Linked DNA regions of Homo sapiens: all the other regions are reported to be linked to region 3. The links are microRNA targets in miRTarBase. Many come from high-throughput screens and were not tested one by one. Region 3 holds a microRNA gene; each other region holds the end of a gene's coding sequence.

Evidence for each region. The annotated mature microRNA hsa-miR-508-5p reads UACUCCAGAGGGCGUCACUCAUG and lies in region 3 at 2,612-2,634, shown strand. An mRNA with a match to its seed (bases 2 to 7 or 8) in the 3' UTR can be bound and repressed. Matches are read on the target gene's strand: a 7mer-m8 pairs with bases 2 to 8, a 7mer-A1 pairs with bases 2 to 7 and ends in A, and an 8mer does both.
Region 1: miRTarBase lists A1BG as a target of hsa-miR-508-5p. Seed matches in the 3' UTR shown: 7mer-m8 at 1,221-1,227 and 7mer-m8 at 2,272-2,278.
Region 2: the mRNA of RILPL1 is a reported target of hsa-miR-508-5p. Seed matches in the 3' UTR shown: 8mer at 2,344-2,351.
Region 4: miRTarBase lists MIGA1 as a target of hsa-miR-508-5p. Seed matches in the 3' UTR shown: 7mer-m8 at 2,584-2,590.
Region 5: miRTarBase lists LYZ as a target of hsa-miR-508-5p. Seed matches in the 3' UTR shown: 7mer-m8 at 4,492-4,498.

What each region holds. Positions count from the first base shown.
Region 1 is chr19:58,342,015-58,347,910 of GRCh38, reverse strand. It overlaps A1BG (alpha-1-B glycoprotein), which reads left to right. Exons shown (of 8, transcript NM_130786.4): 7 at 271-558; 8 at 882-2,728. The coding sequence ends at 889. ZSCAN22 (zinc finger and SCAN domain containing 22) reads right to left here. Exons shown (of 3, transcript NM_181846.3): 3 at 5,579-5,896. Among named protein-coding and RNA genes, the nearest start is that of A1BG-AS1, 7.0 kb to the left of the region's middle. RefSeq lists a silencer at 90-419 and enhancers at 116-616, 670-949, 617-1,117.
Region 2 is chr12:123,468,094-123,473,841 of GRCh38, forward strand. It overlaps RILPL1 (Rab interacting lysosomal protein like 1), which reads right to left. Exons shown (of 7, transcript NM_178314.5): 7 at 1,961-4,589. The coding sequence ends at 4,445. It also overlaps a transcript of SNRNP35 not described here. Among named protein-coding and RNA genes, the nearest start is that of SNRNP35, 13 kb to the left of the region's middle. RefSeq lists a silencer at 709-1,003.
Region 3 is chrX:147,233,718-147,239,613 of GRCh38, reverse strand. It overlaps MIR508 (microRNA 508), which reads left to right and starts at 2,587; the gene lies at 2,587-2,701. The region is part of intron 2 of LOC105373347 (periphilin-1); the gene reads right to left.
Region 4 is chr1:77,874,471-77,880,204 of GRCh38, forward strand. It overlaps MIGA1 (mitoguardin 1), which reads left to right. Exons shown (of 16, transcript NM_001416120.1): 16 at 376-5,070. The coding sequence ends at 594. Among named protein-coding and RNA genes, the nearest start is that of NEXN, 11 kb to the right of the region's middle.
Region 5 is chr12:69,352,137-69,358,032 of GRCh38, reverse strand. LYZ (lysozyme) reads right to left here. Exons shown (of 4, transcript NM_000239.3): 3 at 5,735-5,813; 4 at 3,799-4,880. The coding sequence ends at 4,814. Among named protein-coding and RNA genes, the nearest start is that of YEATS4, 4.7 kb to the left of the region's middle.

The DNA.
Region 1 (5,896 bases), not on the chromosome of region 3:
AAGCCCCAGAGCAGGCCCGAATCTGGGACTTCCACGGTCCTGGGGGAGGGGTGCGGGGACACTCACGTGTGGCGCGGATGTCCGGGGTGTGAAGGCAGCGGGCGCAGCTCGGCGGCGCCGGAGGAGCCCTCTGCGCCCAGGAACAAGACAGGGAAGATGAAGCCGGGGCTGAGGCGCAGGCGCGGGCGCGGCCTGGGGTGTGGCCTGGGGTGTGGCCTGGGGCGTGGCCTGGGGCGTGGCCTGGCCCGACCACCCGCCCGCTCCGCCCAGGACCCCCTCCCAGGCCTCAGCTCCGGGCGACGTGGAGTGGGGCGGTCCTGGCGGGCCGAGATGCCGTCCTGCGCTGCGAGGGACCCATCCCCGACGTCACCTTCGAGCTGCTGCGCGAGGGCGAGACGAAGGCCGTGAAGACGGTCCGCACCCCCGGGGCCGCGGCGAACCTCGAGCTGATCTTCGTGGGGCCCCAGCACGCCGGCAACTACAGGTGCCGCTACCGCTCCTGGGTGCCCCACACCTTCGAATCGGAGCTCAGCGACCCTGTGGAGCTCCTGGTGGCAGGTGACGTTTCCCTGGGTCCCGGGTGCTGGTTCCGTCTGCTGATGTTTGCCTGGGCTGTGCCCACCTCCAGGAGGGCCTCTCCCGGCTCCTCCCTTGGGCACCCCTGGTTAGCGCTGGGTCTCCCCAGGGCTCGTGGGGGAATTGCGGGCGAGGAACCGCCCAGCAAAGGCCCTGCAGCTGGAGGCGCAGATGGGGGTCTCGGCTGGCAGCCGACCACGCGCTTCCTTCCGGGGGGGCGTCAGGGAGGTCGGCCTTGATTTCCGCGAGGAGGAGGGCATAGGATTTCCCCTCCTCCACCATTTCTCTTTTCTCCCGTTGTCTAGAAAGCTGATGCAGCCGCGGGCCCAGGGTGCTGTTGGTGTCCTCAGAAGTGCCGGGGATTCTGGACTGGCTCCCTCCCCTCCTGTTGCAGCACAAGGCCGGGGTCTCTGGGGGGCTGGAGAAGCCTCCCTCATTCCTCCCAGGAATTAATAAATGTGAAGAGAGGCTCTGTTTAAAATGTCTTTGGACTCCCAGGGCTGAGTGGGCTGGGATCTCGTGTCCTCAAAGTGGATGGGTTCTGGGGTGGCTCCTGAGGTAGAGGAGTGGAGAACTGGCTCTTAAGAGCACAGTTTTCTTTTCTTTTTTCTTTTTTGAGACAGGGTCTCACACTGTCACCCAGGCTGGAGTGCAGTGTTGCAGTCCGGCTCACTGCAGTTTTGACCTCCCAGGCTCAAGCGATCCTCCTGCCTCAGCCTCCCAAGTAGCTGGGAGCCTGGGCATGCATCGCCACGTCTGGCTAATTATTATTTTTTGTAGACAGGGTCTCACTGTGTTGCCCAAGCTTGTCTTGAACTCCTGGCCTTAAGTGATCCTCCCACCTCAGCCTCCTGAGTAGCTGGGACTACAGGCATGAGCCACCATGCCTGGCCAACTCACATTTTTCTTTCTATTATTTATTTTTTGTAGAGATGAGTCTCACTATGTTGCCCAGGCTGGTCTTGAACTCTTGGGCTCAAGTGATCCTCCCGCCTCAGCCTCCCAAAGTGTTGGGATTACAGGTGTGAGCCACAGCACCTGGCCAACCAACACTTCTCAGGGCCTCTTTCATCTGTGCTCTTCCAGGATGCTGCCTCTTACTCCCTGGGCACCTCGGCCTGGTCCCAGCAGGTATGGGCAGTTGCTTGAGGCTCCAGACATACTCACCTCTACCTCGACCACATCAACCCCATCACCAAGAGGAGGTTCAGGGAAGCTGCATTTTGTGGTCTTGTCCTCCCAGTCCAGGGTGGTAGTGCTGGGCTGTTCCCAGCCTCCCACAGCAGAGCTGGACGCTGTGGAAATGGCTGGATTCCTCTGTGTTCTTTCCCATTATCCCTCAGCTCTGAGTCCTCTTGTGCCATCTGACATCTGATGCCTTCCCAACCACTGCCGAGTTTCTGCCTGGAGCAGGGCCTCAAGGCCCTGGCACACAGAAGATGCGTATCAGTATTATCAACCAATAGTTGATGAATTGTGTTTTTCAACGAATTTGCTAGTGATCTGGTTTACTGCCTTAGTAATATCTAGTTCCTAATATGCCTATGCCTTTTAATGTCTGCACAGTCTATGATGATGTCACTTCTCTCAAGCCTGATGTGTCCTCTCTCTCTTTCTTGCTAGTGGTTTATCAATTTTTAAAACCTTTTCTTGTTTATTTGTTTTTGAGACAGAATTTTGCTCTTGTTGCCCAGGCTGGAGTGCAATGGCGTGATCTTGGCTCACAGCAACCTCTACCTCCTGGGTTCAAGTGATTCTCGTGCCTCAGCCTCCTGAGTAGCTGGGCTGACAGGCACCCACCACCACACCCAGCTAATTTTTATGTTTTTAGTAGAGATGGGGTTTCACCTTGTTGGGTGGCCAGGCTGGTCTCCAACTCCTGAGCTCAAGTGATCCACCCGCCTCAGCCTCCCAAAGTGCTGGGATTACAGGGGTGAGCCACCACGCCCAGCCCCAGCTTAGTTTTTTAAAAAGTTTATTTTAGCCATTCTAATAGGTATGTAGACATATCTAATAGTGGTTTTCCTTGCGTTTCCTTAATGTCTGATGATGTTAAGCATTTTTTCCCCAAGTGCTTAGTTGCCATCTATATAGCATCTTTGATGAAATGTCTGTTTATATATTTTGCACACTTTAAAATATTGGGTTGTTTTCTTTTTTCTTCTCTTTTCTTTTTTCTTCTCTTTTCTTTCTTTTTGAGAGAGTCATGCTCTGTTGCCCAGGCTGGGGTGCAGTGGCATGATTTCAGCTCACTGCAACTTCCGCCGCCCAGGTTCAAGCGATTCAACTCCCTCAGCCTCCTGTGTAGCTGGGATTACAGGCATGTGCCACCACACTGGCTGATTTTTGTATATTTAGTGGAGAGGGGGTTTCACCATGTTGGCCACACTGGTCTTCAACTCCTGACCTCAAGTGATCCACCTGCCTCAGCCTTCCAAAGTGTTGGGACTACAGGCATGAGCCACCGTGCCTGGCCTGTTTGTTTTCTTACTATTGAGTTTTGTTTGTTTGCTTTTGCTTTTTTTTTTTTTTTCCCGAATCTCACTCTGTTGCCCAGGCTGGAGTGCAGTGGTGTGATCTCGGCTCACTGCAACCTCCGCCTGCCAGGTTCAAGCAATTCTCCTGCCTCAGCCTCCGGAGTAGCTGGTACTACAGGCACCCACCAGCATGCCCGGCTAGTTTTTTGTATTTTTAGTAGAGATGGGGTTTCACCATGCTGTCCAGGCTGGTCTCAAACTCCTGACCTTGTGATCCCAACCGCCTCAGCCTCCCAAAGTACTGGCGTGAGCCACCGCACCCGGTCATTTTTTGTATCTTTAGTAGAGACAGTATTTCGCCATGTTGGTCTCAAACTCCTGAGCTCAAGTGGTCTGTCCACCTCAGCCTCCCAAAGTGCTAGGATTACACTGCACCTGGCCTCCAGCCACATTTTTTTTCTTTTTTTTTTTTTTTTTTTGAGACAGAGTCTTGCTCTGTCGCCCAGGCTGGAGTGCAGTGGCGTGATCTCGGCTCACTGCAAGCTCTGCCTCCCAGGTTCATGCCATTCTCCTGCCTCAGTCTCCCAAGTAGCTGGGATTACAGGAGCCCACCACCACGCCCAGCTAATTTTTTTGTATTTTTAGTAGAGATGGGGTTTCAACATGTTAGCCAGGATGGTCTCCATCTCCTGCCCTTGGGATCCGCCCACCTCAGCCTCCCAAAGTGCTGGGATTACAGACGTGAGCCACCGCGCCCAGCCGCCTCCAGCCATATTTTAAAGATAAAATAATTGTGCAATCTCTATTACTATCATTTAATTCCCAAAGTTCCCGCTTTCCCTCTGGTATCATTTCCCTTCTACCAAGAGTTTCCTTTGGCATTTCTTTTCAGGCAAGTCTGCTGGCAAGAAATATATATCTTAGGTTTGTTTCATTTGAGGATGTCTGTATTTTGCCTTCGTTCTTTAAGTGTGTTTGCACTGGATATAGAATTCTGGGTTGACGGGAGGCGGAGCTTGCAGTGAGCTGAGATCACACCACTGCACTCCAGCCTGGGCAACAGAGCGAGACTCCATCTCAAAAAAAAAAAAAAAAAGAATTCTGGGTTGAGTCTTTTTTTTGTTTGTTTTTGAAATGGAGTTTTGCTCTTATTGCCCAGACTGGAGTGCAATGGTGCAATCTCGGCTCACTGCAACCTCTGCCTCCTAGGTTCAAGTAATTCTCCTGCCTCAGCCTCCTGAGTAGCTGGGATTACAGGCACCCGCCACCACGCCCGGCTAATTTTTTGTAGACACGGGGTTTCACCATGTTGGCCAGGCTGGTCGCAAACTCGTGAACTCAGGTGATCCACCCACCTCGGCGTCCCAAAGTGCTGGGATTACAGGTGTGAGCCACTGTGCCCAGCCTTTTTTTTTTTTTTTTTGAGACAGAGTCTCACTCTGTTGTCGAGGCTGGAGTGAAGTCACCCAATCTCGGCTCACTGCAACCTCTGCCTCCCAGGTTCAAGCAATTCTCCTGCCTCAGCCTCCTGATTAGCTGGATCTACAGGCGTGTGCCGCCATGCCTGGCTTTTTTTTTTTTTTTTTTTTGAGACAGAGTCTCGCTCTGTTGCCCAGGCTGGAGCGCAATGGTGTGATCTTGGCTCACCGCAACCTCCGCCTCCTGGGTTCAAGCGATTCTCCTGCCTCAGCCTCCTTAGTAGCTGGGATTACAGGTACACACCACCACATCCAGCTAATTTTTTGTATTTTTAGTAGAGACGGGGTGTCACCACGCTGGTCAGGCTGGTCTCGAACTCCTGACCTCGTGATCCGCCTGCCTTGGCCTCCCAAAGTGCTGGGATTACAGGCGTGAGCCACCGTGCCTGGCCAATTTTTTGTATTTTTAGTAGAGAAGGGGTTACACACCATATTAGCCAGGATGATCTCAATCTCCTGACCTCGTGACCTGCCTGTCTTGGCCTCCCAAAGTGCTGGAATTACGTGTGATCCACTGTGCCCGGCCCAGGCTGGCTAATTTTCGTATTTTTTGTAGACAGTTTCACTATGTTGCCCAGGCTTGCCTCGCACTCCTGACCTCGTGATCCGCCTGTCTTGGCCTCCCAAAGTGCTGGGATTACAGGTGGGAGCCACCGCACCCGGCCTCTTCAAATGTTTTCTATCATAAAGAACGTGTTAGCACTTCCAAGTACACTTAAGGTTTCGTCAGTTTCTCACTGTGATTCTGTTCTACAAGACTCATATTATGTGCCTGGTTTTGAACTATTACATCTTCCTAATAGATTGTTTCTTTTATAAAAACATAGTGACCCCATGATTCTTAAAATGCTTTTATACCTTAATGTCTGTTTTGCGCGACTAATGCAGCTCCATCAGCTTTCTTCAGTTTCATGCCTACCTTGTATATCCTTTTCTATCCCTTTGCCCTCAACTTCCCATATCCTTGTTTTAGGTGTATCTTTTCTAAAGAACATATGGCTGGTCCAAAAAGAAATTCAGTCTGTTAGAATTTGTCTTTACACTTGGTTTGTTGAGTACAGTCATGTTTATTGAAATTGCTGACATATTTGGATATGCTGTCAAATCCTAGTGCTTCCAGTTCCTGGCAGTGTGACTTTGGTCAGTTACATTCTCTAAGCCACTTCCTCCTCTATAAAACAGGGATGGTTGTGTGAGGACTGAGATGTATATAAATTATTTGGTAGACTGGGCAGCACACACAGGCTCTGAGTAGATTCCCTTTTTTCTCCCTCATCTCCTCCCCTTTTAGACAGACATGGACAGATATGTCTCAACGACCAAATGGGTGAAGATGCTCAGAGCATCAAGGGGATGGAGATCCAG
Region 2 (5,748 bases), not on the chromosome of region 3:
CACGGCTGTGATCCCAGCACTTTGGGAGGCCGAGGCGGGCAGATCACCTGAGGACAGGAGTTCGAGACCATCCTGGCCAACATGGTAAAGCCCCATCCCTACTAAAAATACAAAAATTAACTGGGCGTGGTGGCAGGTGCCTGTAATCCCAGCTACTCAGGAGGTTGAGGCAGGAGAATGGCTTGAACCCAGGAGGCGGAGGTTGCAGTGAGCCAAGACCGGACCACTGCACTCCAGCCTGGGCGACAGAGCGAGACTCTGTCTCAAAAAAAAAAAAAAAAAGAAAAGAAAAAAAGAAAACATGCACACTGAGGCTGGGCGTGATGGCTCACGGCTGTAATCTCAGCACTTTGGGAGGCCATGACAGGTGGATGGCTTGGAGCTCAGCAGTTCGAGACCAGTCTGGGCAACGTGGTGAAAACTTCTCTTTACGAAAAACACAAAAATTAGCCGGGTGTTGGTTTTGCTTGCCTGTAGTCCCACCTACTTGGGAGGCTGAGGCTGGAGAATTGCTCGAGCCCGGGAAGCAGAGGTTGCAGTGAGCTGAGATTGTGCCACTGCACTCCAACCTGGGTGACAGAGTAAGACCCTGTCTCAAAACAAAAAACAAAAAACTTGCACACTCAGACTCCAACCCTGTACATTTGGGCTTAGTGTTCTATGGGCTGTGGTGACTTTGAAAGAAAAACAATGGTACAGCCTCCATGGTAGGGACTTTGGCAGTCTCCATGAACATGACAGAAGCAAATACTCTTTGATCTAGCAATTCTGCTTCTAGTTTATTCTGTAGACTTTTGTGTGTGTGACAGTGTGCAACACTTTTTGAGAGTAAAGGATTGGAAGGAAGCTACCTGTCCATCAGTGGGGCCTAGATAAACATTAATAAATATCACCCCCATATGGTAGACCAGGGCATTGTAGGATGTTCATTAGCACCTTCCTTGGTGTCTACCCATAGATGACAGTATCCTCTCTCCCCCTCCAGTTGTGACAATCAAAAATGTCTCCAGACTGCCAAATGTCCCCTGGGGGGCTCAGTCATCCGTGGTTGAGAGCCACTGTCTTTTCTTTTTTTTTTTGAGACAGAGTCTCGCTCTGTCGCCCAGGCTGGAGTGCAGTGGTGCGATCTCCGCTCACTGCAAACTCTGCCTCCCGGGTTCAAGCGATTCTCCTGCCTCAGCCTCCTGAGTAGCTGGGACAACAGGCGCATGCCCCCATGCCCAGCTAATTTTTGTATTTTTAGTAGAGATGGGATTTCTCTATGTTGGCCAGGCTGGTCTCAAACTCCTGACCTCATGATCTGCCTGCCTCAGCCTCCCAAAGTGCTGGGATTACAGGTATGAACCACTGCTCCTGGCCATGAGAGCCGCTGTCTTATGTACTCATATGGAGTTATTGCTATACATTTTTTTTTCTTTTTTGAGGCAGGGTCTCACTCTGTCCCCCAGGCTGGAGTGCAGTGGTGTGATCACAGCTCACTGCAGCCTTGAACTGGGCTCAAGGGATCCTCCTGCCTTAGCCTCCCAAGTAGCTGAGATCATAGGTGTACACCACCACACCCACCTATTTTTTTATTTTAATTAATTTTTTGTAGAGGTGGGTTATTGCTATGTCACCTAGGTTTGTCTTAAACTCCTGGGCTCAAGTGATCCTCCCTACTTGACCTCCCAAAATATGGGGATTATAGGTGTGACCCACTGCACCTTGGCCCTCTCTAGGATATTTCAAGGGGAAAAAAGAAAAGCACAGAACAGCATGAATATATTATGCTGCCATTTAAATAAAAAAAAAAAGGAGGGCCAGGTATGGTGGTTCATGTCTATAGTCCCATCTACTCGGGAGGCTGAGGCAGGAGGATTGCTTGAGGCCAGGAGTTTGGGACCAGCCTTGGTGACATAGTAAGACCTTGTCCCTTAAGAAAAAAGGAAAGAAGGAATATATACACACATGTACATATATATATGCTTTTTGTTCTTGATTTTATTTTACATAATTGCATGTATAAACTTTCTGATGGATTGATTTTTCCTTTCTGTCCCGATTATCTAGCCTCTGATGTGCTCAAGAGCTGGATCTGCTGACTTATCAAAAAAGTGACATTTGGCCAGGCACGGTGGCTCACACCTGAATTCCCAGCACTTTGGGAGGCTGGGGTGTGAGGATCACTTGAGCCCAGGAGTTTGAGACCAGCTTAGGCAACAAAGTAAGACCTGGTCTCTACAAAAAATAATTAGCTGGGCATGGTGGTGCACATCAGTAGTACCAGCTACTTGGGAGGCTGAGGTGGGAGGATTGCTTGAGCCCAGGGGTTCATAGCTGCAATGAGCTATGATAGTGCCACTGTACTCCAGCCTAGGTGACAGAGTGAGACCCTGTGTCCAAAAAAAAAAAAAAAAAAAAGGCCAGCCACAGTGGCTCACACCTGTAATCCCAGCACTTTGAGAGGCCAAGGCAGGTGAATCACTTGAGGTCAGGAGTTCGAGACCTCGAGACCAGCCTGGCCAACATGGTGAAACCCCGTCTTTACTAAAAATACAAAAATTAGTCAGGTATGGTGGCACACACATGTAGTCCCAGCTACTTGGGAGGCTCAGGCATGAGAATTGCTTGAACTCAAGAGGCGGAAGTTGCAGTGAGCAGAGATGGTGCCACTATACTTTGGCTTGGGCAATAGAGCAAGACTATCTCAAAAAAAAGAGAGACATTTAGTGTTTAGGAAAGATAACCAAGAAACTGGCAATTTTGGTTACCTGTTGGAAGGGCAACAAAGGTGGCCAGGGGTGGGAGAGAAATTCATCAGTATACCTGCTTCTATACTCTTTGAGAATAAATTCTAATAATTCTAATGGGCACTCAGGTTTGAGAAACACTGCTCTAACGCAGCAATAATTACCCTGTCTGATCATTTCTTTTTTTCGGCAATCTGGAAGCAGAGTCCATTCTAGATTCTGCAAATTCACCTGATGGTTTCTTTCTTTCTTTTTTTTTTTTTTTTTAGATGAAGTCTCACTCTGTCGCCCAGGCTGGAGTGCAATGGCACGATCTAGGCTCACTGCAACCTCTGCCTCCTAGGTTCAAGGAATTCTCCTGTCTCGGCCTCCTGAGCAGCTGGGATTATAGGCATGCACCACCTCGCCTGGCTAATTTTTTTGTATTTTTGTAGAGATGGGGTTTCACCGTGTTGGCCAAGCTGGTCTCGAACTCCGGACCTCAAGTGACCCACCTGCCTCGGCCTCCCAAAGTGCTGGGATAGCAGGCGTGAGCCACTGTGCCCAGCCTCACCTAATGGTTTCTTAGCAAACTTCAGTAGAATGTTTAGAACGCGGCCCTGATAAACTTGAGTGCTGGTAGGAGGTGCTACCTCGCTCAATCTGTGAGCAACCAGCCCTGTGCCCTGGATGCTTGGCGGGTGGAGAGAAAGACAGTGTTATGTGGGCAAGCCTCCAACTCACCAGTTGCAGTAGAGCATCTGGCTCTCTGTCTGCTGCTATAGCCCTGTGAGTCAGCCAGACGTGTGGTCCCCAAGCCAGCTTCCCACCTAGCACCCTTGTTCTGCTACAGCTCCCCCACCTGCCCTCCTGCATTGCCTAGGATCCCACGCCCCGCTTTCAGTCTGCTCTGGGACATCTGTCTTCTTCTTTGCAGGGGACTAAGTATATGACTTAATGAATCCTAAAAGGAAAAAAAGATGTCAGGAAAAAAAAGTGCACACAAGAAATGTTGCAACATCTCATCCTTAGCAACTTTGTTTGGTTAGTACTGCATAACTCACAGCAGATTCCAAGGCACCTGCCTTGAACATTGCTACATGCTCTAGGCATTATCAGGAACGCAGCCAGGGTGCCTGCAAAGTTGTCTCCAGTTTCTGGGTAAGAGGACCATCATCCATATTGTCTGTGGCTTTGTGTCTGAGTTGGGCTACTGAGCCTGTGACTTCAGACCCCTTGTCTGCCTGATGGATACATTCTGTATAATACGTTACCATCACAATTTCATGAATGTAACTAATGAAGATCTAGCCCTTCCATGCCTCCTGCTGAACTATGTCACCTGTGATAATAAAACCTCTACACATAGCATTTTATACAAAGCAAGTCAAACAGCAATGATAGTGGCAAGTGATGTATTTGGCTTAAAGAAGCTTGTGTTACTGAAGTTAACGCAGAAGTCTGGCCTCCGTTTGTGGGATTATTAAATATATATCCTACGGGATCAGAGTCATCTATTAGAAACAGTGATAGCCCTGGGTATAAATAAACATTTCTTTAGAGTTTGGCGTCAGTTTTTCAATGTCCATCCTCAAATCAGACAGTCTGTTTGAGGGGTCAGTTTTCAGGGTGCATCTGCACCGAGAGGCTTGAGGCAGCAATGACCCCTGGGCTGCAGTTCGGTTGCAGGCGCTGGTGGCGGGCAGTCCAGGTTGGAGGGTGGAGATGGGCCAAGGTCACAGATGCTGCAGGGCTTCCTGTCCTTGCTCTGTGTAACCGTCATCGCGGTGGGTGTTTGCCCACTGTCCAAAGGACTCCTGGATGTGCACGTTTCTCTGTGTGTTGGCCAGGCGCTTCTTATCTCGGGAGAAGAAGCTAAACCTTTGGAAGGGAAAGCAAACACAGAAATGAGAGCTGACCCTTTGCTGTGCAAGTCACGTTTTTTGCAATGCCGGAGACATATAGCAGCAAACTTAGAAGGGAGCAAATCAATTCAAGGTGTGAAAGACAAAGTTGGGGGTGCAGGTCAAAGTTATTCCAAGAAAGCAGCAGGGTATTCTGCGTGTCATTTGGACACGGTACCTTGGAGGTCACGCGGTATGGGCAAGGCATGCATGCTGATGTGATGTGTGAGGTGTCTTCCACGTTAGCCGCTATGGAGGATTTATCCCGTTACCAGTGGAAATCAAAAGCTGCTGAAACAAATCTTGGGTTTCTTTAATTACCCTAATGACGCAGAGAAAGGAATACTTGAAAACCGTGTGGAATATAAGAGGATTCTGTTGTAAACGAATGAGTATTTCTAATTTAAATAGTTCTGTATTTGTTTAATGTCAGTCAGGAAACTGTGGCCCAGATTTCATGGACATTACTGCTTAGATGAGGCTAAAGGAAGTACTTAAGAAAAATGAACAATAAAACATATACTATGGGCTGAGCGCGATGGGTCACGCCTGTAACCCCAGCACTTTGGGAGGTCGAGGCAGGCAGATCACTTGAGGTCAGGAGTTCGAGACCAGCCTGGCCAACGTGGTGAAACCCCGTCTCTACTAAAAATACAAAAATTATCCAGGTGTGGTGGCACACGCCTGTAATCCCAGCTACTTAGGAGGCTGAGGCAGGAGAATCGCTTGAATCTGGGAGGCGGAGGTTCCAGTGAGCCGAGATCACGCCACTGCACTCCAGCCTGGGCAAGAGAACAAGACTCTGTCTAAAAAAATAAAATAAATATATATATATAAGTAAAACATGGTACGCATGGTTCTCTGATATAAAATTAGGGAAACATCCATTTGCACTTTCAAAAATAGATCTAATGGTGAAAGCCTTTAGGCCGTATCACTGTAACCAGCTACAGAGCCACAGTTAGTCTGGCCTCAGACTTTAACTGAGGTAGACAGAGGTCTTTTTAAAACAGCTGTGACTGTTGCATATTGATCAGAGAGAGCCATCAGGAACTTTCAGATGCCTGAAAGATAAAGGCAGAAGTCATAAGCATACTTGAGTTTGTTACCATAGAAAAAAGAAAGAAAAAAACAAA
Region 3 (5,896 bases):
TTACCAAATAATTCAATTTTCCCAAAACGGTTATTCTTTTCTGACACTTGTACTTTTGTTACTTTTTCCCTCAGGTTTATATGTGAAAAGAATAATGTCAAGGTGGGATCAGTCCTTAGAGAGTCTTATAATGATGAAGTGCTAAGTGAGTTTTTGTATCACATTTTCTGTTTGATGTCTCCACTTAACCTCGTGGATGGGACAGAAAGGAGAAGAGAGAGAGAGAGAGGGAGAGAGAGAGAGAGAGAGAGAGAGAGAGAGAGAGAGAGAGAGAGAGTGAGAGAGTACAAAGAGCACAAAAGAGAGCTGTAAGCTTTAAGTCTCAGAGGCCTGGTGACCATAAGCAAGATAGGAACCTTGTCTGGGAATCGGGTTATATATTTTACCTTCCTGTGTTAGGAAATGGGGCTTTCTGATGCATCTCTTCTTTTAATCCACACCAGGCGGTTTACTTCATAACTTCTTTTAAAGGAAATTTGTTGCCCACCTTAAATGGGAATTTAGGTTAATATCAAGAAGAGGAAGTATCTTCTATTTTATCTACTAGTGTTGCTAACACTGTACAACATGTATCTACTTAGAGTGGTTTTATTTTGCTTCGTGGCCGTATTTTTTTGCTTTATTACTGATTGTTTTAGTTTTGGTATCTGTTTTGGGGGTGGGTTCTTATATTTTCAGAGGTATTTGGAATTATTTGGAGGTTAATTTTTTTTTAATTGTAAAATGTATATAAACATAAAATTTACCATTTTAATCATTTTAAGTGTAAAATTCAGTGGAATTAAGTAAATCCACAGTGGTGTGCAATGATCACCACAATCCATCTCCAGAAATGATTCATTATCCCAAACTAAACCTCTGTAACCATTAAACACTGACTCCCCATTCCCAGCTCTTGGTAACCTCTATTCTACTTTCTGTCTCTCCTAGTTTGCCTATTCCAGGGACTGAATAGAATAAAATCATACAGTAGTATTCCTTTGTGACTGCTTTATTTTACCCAGCATATTGTCTTCAAGGTTAATCCATGTTATAGCATGTGTCAGAATTTTATTTCTAAGCTGGACATGTATGCACATGACTGTAGTCCCAGCTACTCAAGAGGCTGAGGCAGGAAGATCGCTTGAGTCCAAGAGTTAGATTCTAGCCTGAACAACATAAGGAAACCCAGTTTAAAAAGAAAATTATTTCCTTTTGTAGGGCAAATAACATTTCCTTGTATGCATATACCACAGTTTGCATATCACTTTATCTGTTGATGAACACTTGTATTGCTTCTACCTTTTGTCTATTATAAATAATGCTGCTTTGAACATGGGGGCACTATGTCCCTTTGAAATACTGATTTCAGTTCTTTTGGGTATATACCCAATACTGCAATTGCTGAAATATGGTAATTATATCTTTAATTTTTTGAAGAACCACCATAGTGTTTTCTGTGGTGACTGTGCCATTTTACTTTCCTACCAGCAATGCACGGGGTTATAATTTCTTCACTTGTCAACACTTGTTATTTTCTGTTTGTTTGCTTGTTGATAATATTGATTCTAATGGGTGTGAAGTCGTATCACATTGTGGTTTTGGTTGCATTTCCCTAATTAGTGATATTGAGCATTGTTTCACTTATTTATGAGGTAGAATTGATTTTAGAAATATTTTTGTTTGAGTTTTGATTTATTGGTGTGTAGCTGTAGACTTGGGTCATTTTGGACTACTGACACTGGTGGAGGTTCCTGAATGCTGGGAGACCTGGACATGTCCAGATTAAATGTCCCACACCATAATCTCCCTTTCTCTTGCTCCATGGCAAGTAATTTAGCTAATCCTTTAATTTATTCAGTGCACCTCCCTCTCTCTTTACAGTCTTTTGTTTAACTTGGCTCCCTAGCTCTTAAAATATAACTAGTTTGGGGTCTGTGGATCTCTTACTCCTACTTGCTTCCCCCTTTCTTCAGCCTCAGTATTGAAAGGAAAAAATAGATTCCTGGGAGGCCTGTGTCTCCAAATGAAAATTTTGAAAGAGACCCTCTTGACAAGAACTCTAGGAAATGTTGAGAAAGTCCAGGGCTGAGAAGGAAGAATAAGATATAACTAGGTTCTAAGCCAATTGCTCTCTTGGAAATGATTCCAGGCAAGGTAAATGATCTGTATAATCCCCAGGAATGGTGGAGAAAATGAGATTTTTGTCCTATGAATCCTGGCACTGCCTAAATGATCTATCTCTTTTGCTTGAATTCTCTGCATGTTTACCTTGTTCTCTCTGTTGTTTTGGTGTTAAAAGTTAAATAACTCTGAACCAAGGGACTAGGAATTTGGGGGCACAGAGGGTGGGGAGACCTTTAACACTGGTGGAACACAAATCATTTTTAATATGCCATTCCTAATGACTTGAAAATACATAGGAAAATGTTGGTGAGATTATTTGTTGCCGACTGAAGAGAAGAAGTCCTCAAAATCAGCACATGAAATATGCAGCAAGTAAGAGTATCCTCACTAAAGGATGGTTAGAGAATGGGAATGGAGTGGCAAACATACTAGAAATTCTTCATCGTATCTAAACTTCACGTATATATTTGGGTAGAGCCACCACCTTCAGCTGAGTGTAGTGCCCTACTCCAGAGGGCGTCACTCATGTAAACTAAAACATGATTGTAGCCTTTTGGAGTAGAGTAATACACATCACGTAACGCATATTTGGTGGCCATGGGTGTGAGTGTATACAGCCGCATGCACAGAGCTGCCCTCCCTTGTGTCCAAGCACCACCCTCCCCTTGCTGGGCTAACTCAATGGACTCCCATAGGCAGGTCTTGAAAGGCAAATCCTAGGGACTGAGGGCTCCCAGGAAAAATCACCCATGTAGGCTTTCCGGGGATTTATATACCCTTGTCCAAAGGAGGCATGCCCACACAGGTAAGAAAATTTGTAGTGAGGATGTGGCTTTTCCTCTTTTTATATTCAGAGCTTCTACTGCTACAGAGCCCAACTATTCATTTTGCCTTGAAAAACCTCCAACGTATTTTTCCTCACAACATTTCTTTTAGCTTCCAAGCCTTTTCATTTCCCAGTGGGCTCTTCAAATTCCCTCCTGCCTCAGAAGCATCCCTCTGCACCAAAAAGCTCTTGCTCTTTCAGGATTGAAGACAAGCCTTTCCTTAAGAGTTTGTGTGTTCTTCCTTACTTGGAAAAATACATTATTTCCAAAATTATCTATCTGTTGGTTAAAAAAAAAATATATATATATATAAAATATTTATGTATATATTTTTAAAAAATATTTATATGTATATTTTAAAAAATATTTATTGAAAATATGTGTATATCAGTCCTTTCTAAATTCAACATATCTATAAAAGGTTAAGAAGTTGCCTAGAATATTTGTTTTGTTAGTTTTCTTTGAATTATATTTAACATTTTATTTTTAAAATTATATGAAGGAATAAAAAGAAGTGAAGGTATTCATCTCAGATTATTGAGAATGATAACATATATATTTGTCTTTTCCCTTCCACTTCCCTTCAGTTGCTCCTTCTTAACCTAAGGTCTTCAGAAAGAAAACTTGAGAATCACAGACAAAAGATGGCCAGCGCCGGATCCCTGGAGAACATCTTCAGACTGGAGCAGTGACTAGGAAGCAGGTTGTACACACTACGGTGCTGGAAAAATGGAGGTGGAGTGGGGTTGGAGGGTAATCATCCTGGTGACCCCTTCCGGATTAATTCTCATAAAGCACCTTAAGTGGGCAAGTTGAAGTTTATGGAATTTTGTTGTCATCTCGAGTCAGTGACATGTCTCACTCCGTTCCAAATCTTGGCAAAAATTTAGATTGTAATCAAGAGGAAGGGTATTCTTCTCTTATATCACTAATACTACTACATTATCGCCTGTGTACAACCAGTGTCTACTGCTCATGGTATCTTCTTCCCTATTTCATGAGCTCTAAGAGTTTTCCTGGGCAGAAAGTCTCACCACCCTAGATGTGTGTCTGGGGCAGTGACAGTGGCACCACTGCAAATTGTTCTCAAATTTGTGCTTATTTTTGAGAAGGTGTGAGTTTGTGTGTGAGTATGTGTGTGTTGGTTTTTACAAATGAGTTAATTTAGTTAGTTGATTCGTTCATGTGCATATTGTGGTTGGGTTTGGGGGGACTTTTCAAATTGTTTTTGCTTAGTAATATTGTTTATCCAGACATTGGTAACTGTCTGATTTTGGTTTTGTTTTTGTTTTTTGTGATATTATTTTGTTTATAATTGTCCTTTCATTTCCAGTCTCTGTGCATTTATTTTTCAAAGTTGGTTCTTCCTTTTTAGGTTTATTTGTTTATTTTGTTTGCTTGTATTATTATTTTTAACTGACACATAATCATTGTACATATTTTGGGGGTACAGTGTGATTTTTTATTGTTTGCAATTCAGTGTTCATGGCACCTCTGCTTGTTGTTTCGTTGCATACTTGAAGTTTTTTTTTTTTTTTAAGTTAGAATTGTGGTTTGTGTTTCAGCAAATGTTTTATTCCTGTTTCGGGGGGAGGGGGCTGTCATGATTTAATTATTAGTTGTTGGTTCCAATCTGAGTTTTCTTCTTTGGTTTTGATTTGGTTTTAATTTATGCGTTTGGTTTGATTTGTACTGAGAGGTGCTTGGGAGTTGTTTTAGTTGTAGTTTCCTTTGTGTATTTAGACATGTTTGTTTCTTTCCTGCTGTTTTGCTATATCTTTCTTTGTTTTATTCTCTAGTGTATTTCTATTTGCTTTTCAGCTGACTTTTTGTGTGTATATGTGAGTGGGTGGGTGGGTGGATGGATGTGGGTGTGTATGCGTGCATTTCTGTGATTATTTTTGAATGATGTTGACTTCTTTAAAGTATTTTGTTATTTTCCATGTATTTTTAGTTTCAGTTTGTGTTTATTGTTTTATTTTGTGTGTGTGTGTGGGGGGGGGGGGTTCTTCATTTTCCTTGTGTTTTGGGATATTTAAATTTGTATGAATTTTGTTTTGTTGCTGTAGTTATTTTTTCCCCTTTAATTGTGTGGGGCTCAGAAAGTTTTGTCTTTCATATATATGTGCGCTTTATTGGGGATGTGTTTTTTTTTTTAAGTTGTGGGAGTTTGCTTGGATTTTAAATGTTTTGCCTCAGTATCTGTGTGTATGCTTACATGGTTTGGTATTTGCAACATGCTTTCTAATTGATAAGTTCATGTATTGATTCTGTTTGGAATTTGTTGTAGTTGATTTATTTATTTATTTTAATCCTGTTTGTTGAGCTTTTCTAATTTGGGATGATTGTTGATAGGGGTTTAAAAATATATTATTGGTTTACTTTTTAGTTTTTATTTATTTGTGCCCTGTTTTTCTGATTCATTACTTTTTAAAAAATCATTTATAGAAGTTTTGGTACATAAGGCTAAAATTTCTTTCTTTTGTTAGGGATAATTTGCATTATTTGTTGATTGATTTTTTTTTTTTAGCTTATATGGTTTTTTTGAATTGTGTGTATGAGCATGTGTTTGTTATTTTGAGATTTTTGTATTGTGATAGCTTTAGTTCTTAAAAAGCGTCGTTGATACATGACTGACATAAAGTTTGCGCTTTGACATATTCTGTTTATACACCCATGAAATCATCCCCTAAATCAAAATAAATAGGGAATATTATACATCCTCCCTGAAAGATTCCTCCTGCCTCTTTGTGATCCTCATTTTCGGTCTTCTGCACATAACCACAGAGCCATGCAGCCACTAATCTGCTTTTATTCACTATGGATTAGATTTTATTTTCCAGATTCTTATTTTTTATTTTTTGAGATGGAGTCTCTCTCTGTCACTCAGGCTGGAGTGTAGTGGCGTGATTTCGGCTCACTGTAAATTCTGCATCCCAGGTTCAAGCAATTCTCCTACCTCA
Region 4 (5,734 bases), not on the chromosome of region 3:
GAAGGGAAAGGACTATAACCCCTTACATTTAAACAGTGCTTTAGAGTTTACAGGCACTTCTTATAGATTATCTTTTTTTAAATGTTTCCCCACCTTTTCATGGTATCACATAGGTTATCTTTTTTGATCATCATGTCATCCCTGAGTAGTAAGTAGGGTGGGTGGTATTAGCCCTATTTCACAGAAAAAGAAAATGAGCCCCCAAAAAGGAAAGGTTAAATCACTTGTGCAAGGTCCCTTTTCTAATGAGATATGAAACTAGCACTGGAAGTCAGGTCTTCTGAGTCCTGATTCAGTGCTCATTATAATATTAGAAGCTTTCTCAATGTAACTTAATTTTGGTCTAATAAATGCCAATTTATGTTCATTTTCCAGAATCAAGTTCTTTTATTTCTCAAAGACATTTTTGACTTTGAGAAGGTGCGCTATTCAAGTACAGAGACTTTAGCTGAAGACCTCATGCAGTTACTCATTCGCCGCACTGAGCTTTTAATGGCCTATCTTGAAGCAGATGCCCTGAGGCATACAAGTAGTTGTCTAAGCAGTCATGGTCATGTTATGTCCACTGGGCTACTGGAAGCCAAAGTACAATAAGTACCATAAGAATCATACAATTTGAGTGTGCTATGAAATATTTTAAGGTAACTATTGATTTTGTAACATATATTACAAAGTTAACAGAATTGATGCATGTGGATTCAGGGAGGAAAAAAAAATCTACTAAAAAATGAGCAACTGTACTGTATTTATACAGAAGTTCTGTCATTGAATTCCTGTGTAGTGTAGTCATAGTGGCTTTTTGCATTCATTAGGTAATAATTGAAGTCATGAAATGTATATTTTACAGAAATATCGCTTGAATTGAAGCCAATATTTGGGAGTTAATTGGTTTGTCTTCTTGAAGCTGTCATTCTCAAAAGCTCTGTTTTTATGCTTTGCACCTTTAAAATGTACACTTTAGCCAAGGTCTTTGTGGCCCACACATGCAAGAATATATTACTTCTAATGTCAATATATTTAACTTTGCCTAGAAACATATTTTTAATTATAAAGTTATTCATTTGTTTAATCAAGTTTAGGCAGTAATGATGTTTAATATGTACTGCATACATTATTGCTTGTGCATTTGCTTATGTATTTGAATCAAAGAAATTGTAATCACTGAATATTGTTATAGAACATTTAAATGGGCCACTTGCAGTGGCTCATGCCTGTAATACATTGGGAGGCTGAGGCAGGAGGACAGTTTGAGGCCAGGAGGTTGAGACTAGCCTGGACAACATAAGGAGATGCCTGTCTCTACAAAAACATAAAAATAAATTAGCTGGTATCAAGCAGAGTTCCATGGAAATATTAAAATTTTTTTAAAAAATAAAAATAGGCTGGGTGTGGTGGTTCATGCCTGTAATCCTAGCACTTTGGGAGGCCAAGGTGGGCGGATCACCTGAGGTCAGGTGTTCGAGACCAGCCTCCCCAATATGGTGAAACCCCGTCTCTACTAAAAATACAAAAATTAGCCAGGTGTGGTGGCGGGCGCCTGTAGTCCCAGCTACTCGGGAGGCTGACACAGGAGTATTGCTTGAACCCAGGAAGTGGAGGCTGCAGTGAGCCGAGATCGCACCACTGCACTCCAGCCTGGGCAACAAAGTGAGACTCTGTCTCAAAAAATAAATTAATTAAATTAAATTAATTAGTTGGGTGTGGTGGCATGTGTCTGTGGTCCCAGCTACTTGGGAGGCTGAGGTGGGAGGATCACTTGAGTCCAGAAGGTCAAGGCTGTCATGAGCTGTGATTGCATCACTGCACTCCAGCCTGGGCGACAGCAAGACCCTATCTCAGAAGTGAATAAATAAAACAAATACAGCATTTAAATGAATTGACATTGAGAAATTTACAATTTACAAATTTATATTAACTGTAGTTTCCAAAATATGTTACTGTTGGTCCTGTAAGTTACAAAGAGACTGAAGAACTTTCTTTTTATACATTAGAGCATTTTCCCCTGGAATGAGTATTGATTAAAAAGATAACATTTATTAATTAATAAAGGCAATTTAAAATTTAGTGTTATTTGAAGACTGTCAACATCTGAAGGTATGAAACTTGGTACAGTGAAATAATTTCTCCTTTCTCCTTCCTTTTAGTTATTCCCACAGAAAACTCAGCCCAGTGGGAATTTGTCATATTATGCCCATGTTTTAAAAATATTCATAGTTTGAATCTTATTGACATTTTAAAGAAGAGTTTTTTCCTCCCTGGAATGTAAAACAAAAATATTTTTTAATGATGTGGAAGTATATATTTCATGTTCATTATGATAAATCTACAAACAAATGAATTGTTTTTATGGGTGGAGTTCTTCTATAAGAGTATATTAAATGCTTTCAGAGTTGTATTAATTTTGTTTCTAAATAATATACCACTTATTTGGAGTGACTAACTCAGTATGTAAGTAGATGAGATTTGTTGATTTTGCCCCTAAAACGGGCTTTAGTCATTTTAGGAGTGAGTTGCACAAAAGGACCTAAAATGCATTGTTTTTTGCCTTCTTTTAAGAGATGGGGTCTCGCTCTATTGCCCAGGCTGGAGTGCAGTGTGCTATCATACATAGCTCACTGCAGTCTCCAACTCCTCATACCAGAGGCATGTGTCACCATGTCTTACTCCTAAAATGCATTTTTAAAAAGCGAATTTTTAGATTAAAGTGCCTAGTTTCTGATTAATAAATAGAAGATGAAAAAAGTGGGCGGGAAAAGCATAATCTTTTAAGATTTGTAATTTTCTGTATGTGCCACATTTATGTAAATTAACTATAAAATATGGAATTCAGGATCATGCTGTTTTGCATGTACTTTATAGGTTATATAGCATGAAACATACAAATTATCACTGTTCTTTAGTATATAGCTCCTTGCCTTTTCTTACATAGATGCTTAATTTAACAATTACCTATTTATAGTTCTTATTATTGACGGGAATATGATTAGAAGTACCAAAACTAAAAATTCCATTATGTACTGTTTACTTTTTATTTAATATTACATGTTTTTACCTTGTTGCGGTATCTTTGGCCTTCACACACACATGTGTGCGTGCACGTGCATTTCATTACCATGTAGACAAGACAGTTATTGCTTATAGTAATTTACCCATTTGAGGGCTAAGTGTTTTAAGCTGTGGTTTTATAAGCAAAGCTGTAAGTAAATGTAATTTATTTTAGAAAGATATTATTTGAAATCAATTTTGAAGAATTGCACTATTTGATAATGCTGCTACTACATGAGATAACTCTGGGGAATTAATTTTATGAGATAAGATGAATGGCTTTCTAGAAGGTGTTGCTTTTTGTTTTTTCTTTTTCTTTTTTACATTTCATCTTAGAAAAAGTTGCTTATATTCAGCAGGTTGGTTTGTCAAATTCAGTGTTTGAGTTTGTTTCTGGTCAGTTCAGTAGCTGCTACTTTAGCAAGATGTGGCCTTTCACAAAAGAGGTAAGAGTGACCAAATAGAATTTTAGGACAATAAGTATAGGAAATATCTCTTTATCGTAAGATAAGAAACTTGAACTTTTTAAAGGAAATGTCCTCTTGAAAAGAACATTTCTGACTGCATGCAGAAGGGTACTTAAGACATATATAACAGGCCAGGAGCAGTGGCTCACGCCTGTAATCCCAGCACTTTGGGAGGCCCAAGTGGGCAGATAACCTGAGGTCAGGAGTTTGAGACCAGCCTGACCAACATGGTGAAACCCCATCTCTACTAAAAATACAAAAATTAGCCAGGCATGGTGGCGCATGCCTGTAATCCCAGCTACTCGAGAGGCTGAGGCAGGAGAATCGCTTGAACCCGGGAGGCGGAGGTTGCAGTTAGCCGAGATCGTGCCATTGCACTCCAGCCTGGGCAACAAGAGTAAAACTCTGTCTCAAAAAAAAAAAAAAAAAAAAAAAAAAAGACATATGTAACGGTTTCCATTTGCCTTAAAATTGGGTTAAATAGCAAAAGCAATGTCTTTAAAAATGATTAGTTTAGAGCCTTTTAGGGTAAACCCTGTTTAAACACTTAATCATGGAATTGCCCTTGCCACCATGAGCTCTACCATCCACTTCCATATGTAAATTATAAGAGGGACTTCAATTAAGTCACTCCTGAGAAAATATCCTTTTTTCTAGAAGAAAGAAGATAAATTTTGAGGCAATTTACATTTGGTATTTCTTTTAATTTCATTTTTTGTATTTTAATTTCCCTACATTTTTGTTCAACTAAGAGTGCTTATTTCTTCTTGAAGGTTAACATTATGTTTATTAAGTATCAAAATGGAATTATCTTTTAAAAAAGAAGACAAGTTTTCCATACTGTCACAGTAAGCTCCAAAGAACTTTGTCTTTCTCATAAAGTAATATTCTTTATTTGCATCCATTTACTATGATTCCGTTAATTTGTTGAATTAAATGCCTTTATAAAAATATTTACAAATGTTTTCTTGCCTTAAAATGTAACATTTTCTACTTAAATTTAATTTCCAAGAGAGTGATTATTTGCATTACAAAGGAATTCTTAATAATTCCTGTAAGCCTAGGAAATAGGAATGCCAAAGTAACATTTAATGTACTTCTCTATAACTTTTCATAATCAGAAATTTTAAATTATGTTTATATAACCCATTTACTTTTATTTTAATGTGAATATATATTCAGAAATTATTTGATGTAAATTTCAAAATGATTATAGGAATTAAGCTGAATTCTAATTTTTTTGCTTAGATTTAGAAATATGTATGTGAAATTTAAGAATTTATATAATCTGTGATTAGTGGAAATAAGAACATCCCTACTTTGTTCCTAATGAGTATATTATGTTATTGTTTTGTTTAGTTTGTGAACAACCATGTATTAGCTTTACTTAGCTGATGTCAGTAAATGTTTCTGTCTCCTAAATGTAAGGACTGTACTCATTAATTTGTGTAAAAGTAAAACACTACAGTAGCAGAAAAAATTGCACTGGCTCTTTAGCCAAAATAAGCACTGTAACATGGATGTATTACTATTACTGCCAAATAAAAAAGTGATGGTACGTCTTGCTGATGTATTGAATATTTTAAACAATGTTAATATATAATTATGAAGTCACACTTGTCTCATCAGATCCTGTATGAGAATATTCAGTCTCCATAAGACCCATATATATGGCATAGAGAACAGGACAACTGCAGAAGCATTATAATCAAATATAAAACTTTATCATTAAAATAAAAAATAAAAGGCCGGGTGCGGTGGCTCATGCCTGTAATCCCAGCACTTTAGGAGGCCGAGGCGGGTGGATCATCTGAGGTCAGGAGTTCGAGACCAGCCTGGCCAACATGGTGAAACCCCGTCTCTACTAAAAATACAAAAATTATCTGGGCATGGTGGTGGGCACCTGTAATCCCAGCTACTTGGGAGGCTGAGGCAGGAGAATCGCTTGAACCTGGGAGGCAGAGGTCGCAGTGAGCCAAGAGTGCACCATTGCACTCCAGCCTGGGCAACAAGAGCGAAACTCTGTCTCAAAAAAATAAAAAATGAAAACAAAGATTAAAAATTTATTGTTTCTCCATGTACTGATATGGGGAAAAAGACAGTTTTGTGATGAATAAAGTGAAAATACTTGTATTTTAATTTAAGTGTTTGGATGATAATGCCATCAAGCATAATATAAACTTATATTGATATATTGATGTATATGCATCATTACTATTCAT
Region 5 (5,896 bases), not on the chromosome of region 3:
AGAATAAGAGTAGAAATTTGGTTTGGGGGCGTAATTATATTTAAAACAATTGGTATGACTAAGAAATATTTATCAAAAACTAAAGCAAAATCTCCAACAAACATTGCTTTCCCTCTTCAGTCTACTTTGTCTAATCTCTGGCAGTTTCCTCAATCAGCCTGTGTTGTTGGGTTATCCTGGCACTTCTTGGACATGTCCTATCTCTGTTTCTCAGCTGTCACTCTTCAACTCTCTCTCCGCTACCTTGACTCATCCTTTGTACACCTCAGGGTATCTCGATATGCATAAACTCATTCGTTTTTAGTTTAATCACGTCAGAATGGTCCAAGAATTTTGAAGCCAAAGGTTGCACCTATGTAGTGGCCCTCTGCTGCCCTCACATGGCTAGTCTATGTGCTGCATTTACATAGCCAAGAAGTGGCTTGGAACCCCGCAAGCGGTTGTACTGGAATCATGTGGCCTTGAAGAGTTAATTAAAAAAAAAAAAAAAAAAAAAAAAAGGCTGGGCGCGGTGGCTCGCGCCTGTAATCCCAGCACTTTGGGAGGCCAAGGCGGGCGGATTACGAGGTCAGGAGATCGATCTCCTGACATGGTGAAACCCCCTCTCTACTAAAAATACAAAAATGAGCTAGGCGTGGTGGCGAGTACCTGTAGTCCCAACTACTCGGGAGGCTGAGGCAGGAGAATCGCTTGAACCCAGGAGGCGGACGTTGCAGTGAGCTGAGATCGCGCCACTGCAGTCCAGCCTGGGTGACAGAGCGAGACTCCGTCTCAAAAACAAAAAGCTTAGAATGTTCAGTTTGGAGGGAACATACTAAATAATCAGCAAGAGATTTATTCGATCAACTGATATTGATTGAGCATGTACCATGTTCCAGTCACTCTTCTAGGTGTTTAGAATACAGAAGTGGAATGAGTGAAAAATTTCTATTCTTCCTATCAGGACAGTGGTTCAGCATATTATAAAATCAGAGATGTATCATGGTAAGGAGGGTGTCCAGGTGTTGGGGAAGGAAGCAACCCACTGAGGGATGTCAGAGCCTGAGTGGAGAGCACTTGGGCAGAGTTGGGGAATTGGTTACATACAGGCAAACCCATCAAATACGTAAATGTACTAAGGATACATTTTAAGGATAATGAGTATAATGGATGCTAAGTTACTTACTGTCAGAGAAGAGAGTTAAAACATGCGAAAGAAGAAAACTAGAGTGAATCCTGTGGTGTGAGATTAGAATTGGAGATATTGGTGTGGATTCATGATTTTCAATATAAATAGATAGATATAGAGATAAATATAGTGTAAATACATATATCTTCCAGCTCTGTTCACTGATAGGGCCTGGAAACAGTGATACCCTAGTGCCCAGATCCTGTTTTTTTAATACTATTATGCACTTTGAGGAATCAGGGCTCCTTGGAGAAATGCCTTTTCCATTTTTGGAAGCAAGGAAGGAACAAGGTGAGCCTTAGAATATCTTGTGCCAGAAAACAAGAAAGTGCTTGAAGAATGATGGAAATATGTCGAAATGGCACAGAAGACAACTTGCAGGGGCTCACTGGCCAAATCGAGGACAGTGTGAACATCAAAATAAATAATAGTAATGGACTATAACTCCTTATGATTTGAATAAAATAGAAGCCATGGGTCCATACTGATATAATAAATAAATGCATGACCAGGCACGGTGGTTCACACCTGTAATCCAGCACCTGGGAGGCCAAGGCAGGCAGATTGCTTGAGCTCAGGAGTTCCAGACAAGCCTGGGCAACATGGCAAAACCCCATCTCTACTAAAAATACAAAAATTAGCCAGGCATGGTAACGCGTGCGAGTAGTCCCAGCTACTCAGGAGGCTGACGCGGGAGGATTGCATAAGCCTGGGAGGCAGAGGTTGCAGTGAGCTGAGATCGCGCCACTGCACTCCAGCCTAGGCGACAGAGTGAAATCCTGCCTCTAAATAAATAAACAAACAAACTGAAAATTTGATGAGCAGTAGTCTCAAGGCACCTCCTCCCCAAATACTTTACAGTGAAGATGGCTTGCAGGCCTCACCTTAATCAAGTGATCCAAGTGAACATCATCAATAATGGGGCAAATCAAAACTGCAAAAACTGAATGCCACCTGAAAGGATGCAGTGAGAACATCACTTCTGTGGTATTCCTACCAAAGATGCATAACTTAATGGAATCGAGAGAACACCAGAAAAACCTTAGGTACATTCTATAACATAACTAGTCTGTGGTCTTCAAAAGTGGCAAGGTCATAAAAAGTCCAGAAAGAAACAACTGAGGAAATAATCCAGATTCAAAGAGACTTAAAAAACATGACAACCAAATACAATATGATTCTGAATTAGATGCTTTTGTTATGAAGGTCTTATTGGGACAATCGATGAAATTGAGTGGAATCTGATGACTAGGTGGTAGTAATGTATCAGTGTTAATTTCCTAATTTGGATAATTGTTTTGAGGTTTTATGCAGGAGAATGTCTTTATAGGAATTACACACTGATGTAATCAGGGCCATTGGGTATCATGTTGGCTATTTACTCTCAAAACAGTTCTGAAAAATAAAAGATCTTTGTACAGTACTTTTATATTTTTTAAAAGATTGAGTTTATTTCAATGTTTTTTTAAAAAGTGGAAAAACCTCTGTCATTTTGGAAGTTATATTTTGGTGAGAAGAGACAAATAAGTAAAATATGTAGTATATAAAATTATTATAGACTTGAGCCCTGAGGCACTCTCACATTTAGAAATTAAATAGCAGAGAAAGAGTGAGCAAGAAGGACTGAGAAAGAACAGTCAGTGAGGTAGGATGTAAATAAGGAAAAGCCAAGGGATTAAAAAACTGCTAAAAGTATGAAGCGGTTCACTTTGTCAAATGCTGCTGAGATGAACAAGATGATCACTGGAATTAGCACTGAGGAATCATGGGAGAAATCCTGGAGGAGCAGTTTCAGCTGGGTGAGGATAGAAGCCAGATTAGAGAGGGTTGAAAAGACACTGGGAGGTGAGGTCATGGAGTTGGTAAGTACAGACATACTTCCCCAGAAGTCTTGCTGTAAAGGGAGCAGAGAATGGAGTTGCAGTTGGAGGATTATGTAGGGTCAGTGGAGTATTTGTTGTAAGATGGAAGGTTACTAGGGCAGACTGTAGAATGATGGAGGTGATCCAGCTAAAAGGGACAAACTAGGGATGCAGGAAACAGCCTGACTTGGAGTAGTGAGAGGGATGGGAGGGAAACTGCATGTGGAGTCAGTGCTGTTGGCAGGAGCAGAGGCTCTTCATCCTGATAATAGGAGGGAAGGAAGGAAGGATGGGCCTGTGGGAAGGTATGACTGCTGCTTTGGGATGTAGAAGGGAAAGCTTGGTATGAAGTTGCTTTTGTTTTAGAAGTGTAATATGAGGCCAGGTTATCTGCTGAGAGCAGAGGAGGGTGGAGGATAAGGGGGCAGAGGAGGAGGCTGAATGTGTGTCTTGAGGCTTTGAAGAGAGAAGAGGAAAAGTAAAATAGTAACAGTCATTTTGGAGACTAGGGACATAAAAATGGAAGGATTGTAGAGAAGTAACTAAAATGGTCAGGCAGACTTGAGGGCTCATTTGAGATTTATGGTTATGAATTTAAAGTGAGACCTGTCAGCATGCTTGTGAATTTTTCTCCAGCAATATCTGACTATTTAAGTGAGGTAAGTGACGATATAAGAGATATTAAGAGCACCAAATCATATTTTTTCAAATATCTGTATTCTTTTCTTCAGAGACACTATAGGAGTCTAAATAAAAACAGACAAGGCATGTGTTGCAAAGCCTTTAATTAGAATGTTTGTATTTTTTACATCATGCATAACTTCACATTTGTGATTAATTAGTAATTATTTCAATACTTGTAAGCTCATCTGCCTCAGATTTAATCATAATACATGAATTAAATTAATCAAATTAAGGAACAGCAATTTAGAAAGAAACACACTTTAAGAAATCAAAATTCTCAATTCAGGCAGTCTGTTTCTATCATTTGGTATTCTACTCCTTTAAAAATTTCATATTGCCCAACAAAAAGTGGTTATTTTTACTGTTTTTGGAGATGACTGAACAGATGAAGGCATCAGATGCCTTCATCAGCTGGTATTTTGCCTAAGATCTATTTAAGATAACCTTTTCTTATATTTTTTACTTAATATTGGGCATAATCGTATCATTCAAGATTAAGTCTGGGTTATTTCTTTGATAAGAACTGAATGTGGCCGGGCGCAGTGGCTCACGCCTGTAATCCCAGCACTTTGGGAGGCCGAGGTGGGTGGATCACAAGGTCAGGAGATCGAGACCATCCTGGCTAACACGGTGAAACCCTGTCTCTACTAAAAATACAAAAAATTAGCCGGGCGTGGTGGCGGGCGCCCGTAATCCCAGCTACTCGGGAGGCTGAGGCAGGAGAATGGCGTGAACCCGGGAGGTGGAGGTTGCAGTGAGCCGAGATTGCGCCACTGCACTCCAGCCTGGGCGACAGAGCGAGACTGTCTCAAAAAAAAAAAGAACGGAATGTACTGGAGATGTATTTGATAACCAAGGTTTTAGGTAAATTTTCACCAGTATTAGTTCTATTTGCAAACTGAAAAATGTTGTAGGCTTAATGTAAAATAACCACATTAGTGAACATTATATCTCTTAGAAGAAAGGCCATATTTTGCTCCTGCTTCTGTAAAAATATTATTTGTTTGAAGGGGAAATAATGGTAGTGTGACCTTTCACTTAATTCCTACTCCCTTAATGTGAGAGAGACAAAATGAGCTGAAGAAGGAAAATTCTGGAGTTACACTCCACAACCTTGAACATACTGACGGACATCTCTGTTTTGACAACGATTTCTCCATGCCACCCTGTAGAAAAAGATGAAGCAAATGGTGAAAGGTTAAAACATATCTTCATTGTAATATACATACTTCGCACTCCTTGGGGAAACAAAATATTTTATCAATAGATAAAATAGTAAGATAGACCCAGCTATTGCTATTTATTAAATGAAGATATGTATACAAAATACTTCACTCCTACCCAAATTTCTCAGTAGAGCATAGAATGCCGAACATAAAGATTGAGTAATGTGCGTTGTACAGCAGCAACTGCAAAGTGAATTCCACATTTATTTTTTATGTATTTATTTGAGACAGAGTCTCACTCTGTCGCCCAGGCTGAAGTACAATGGCGCAATCCTCTGCAACCTCCACCTCCCGGGTTCAAGCAAGTCTCCTGCCTCAGCCTCCCGAGTGGCTGGGATTACAGGCACCTGCCACCACACCCAGCTAATTTTTTGTATTTTTAGTGGAGATGGGGTTTTGCCATGTTAGGCAGGCTGGTCTCGAACTCCTGACCTCAGGTGATCCATCTGCCTCGGTCTCCCAAAGTGCTGGGATTACAGGCGTGAGCCACTGTGCCCGGCCCACACTTACTTATTCTAAAAAGAATTTCAAGATATGACAAGGAACTGATAGAGTGTGAAGCATCTTAAAACTCTAGAAATCCCCTAAAATAAATTGAGGAGTAAAAGAGTAAGATTCTGGATCAGTTAAAGTAGATTGTTTCTTCAAGGATGTAGGTAATACATCATTTAGCATAAGCCAAAAGCTGCAATTTTGAGGTGTCATTAGCATACTTTGGTCTTTAAAAGTCTGCTCTCATTGTATATATCAACAGTAGAGTAAGATAGTTTTCCCTTTTAACACTTAAAACATACCATGCTCTAATGCCTTGTGGATCACGGACAACCCTCTTTGCACAAGCTACAGCATCAGCGATGTTATCTTGCAGCAAAGCTGAAAGACAGGTGGTAAGGAATAAAAACTTTAATAGATATTTTATTTTAAATTTAGGTTTAGCCAGCTTTTTTCTGTTAGGC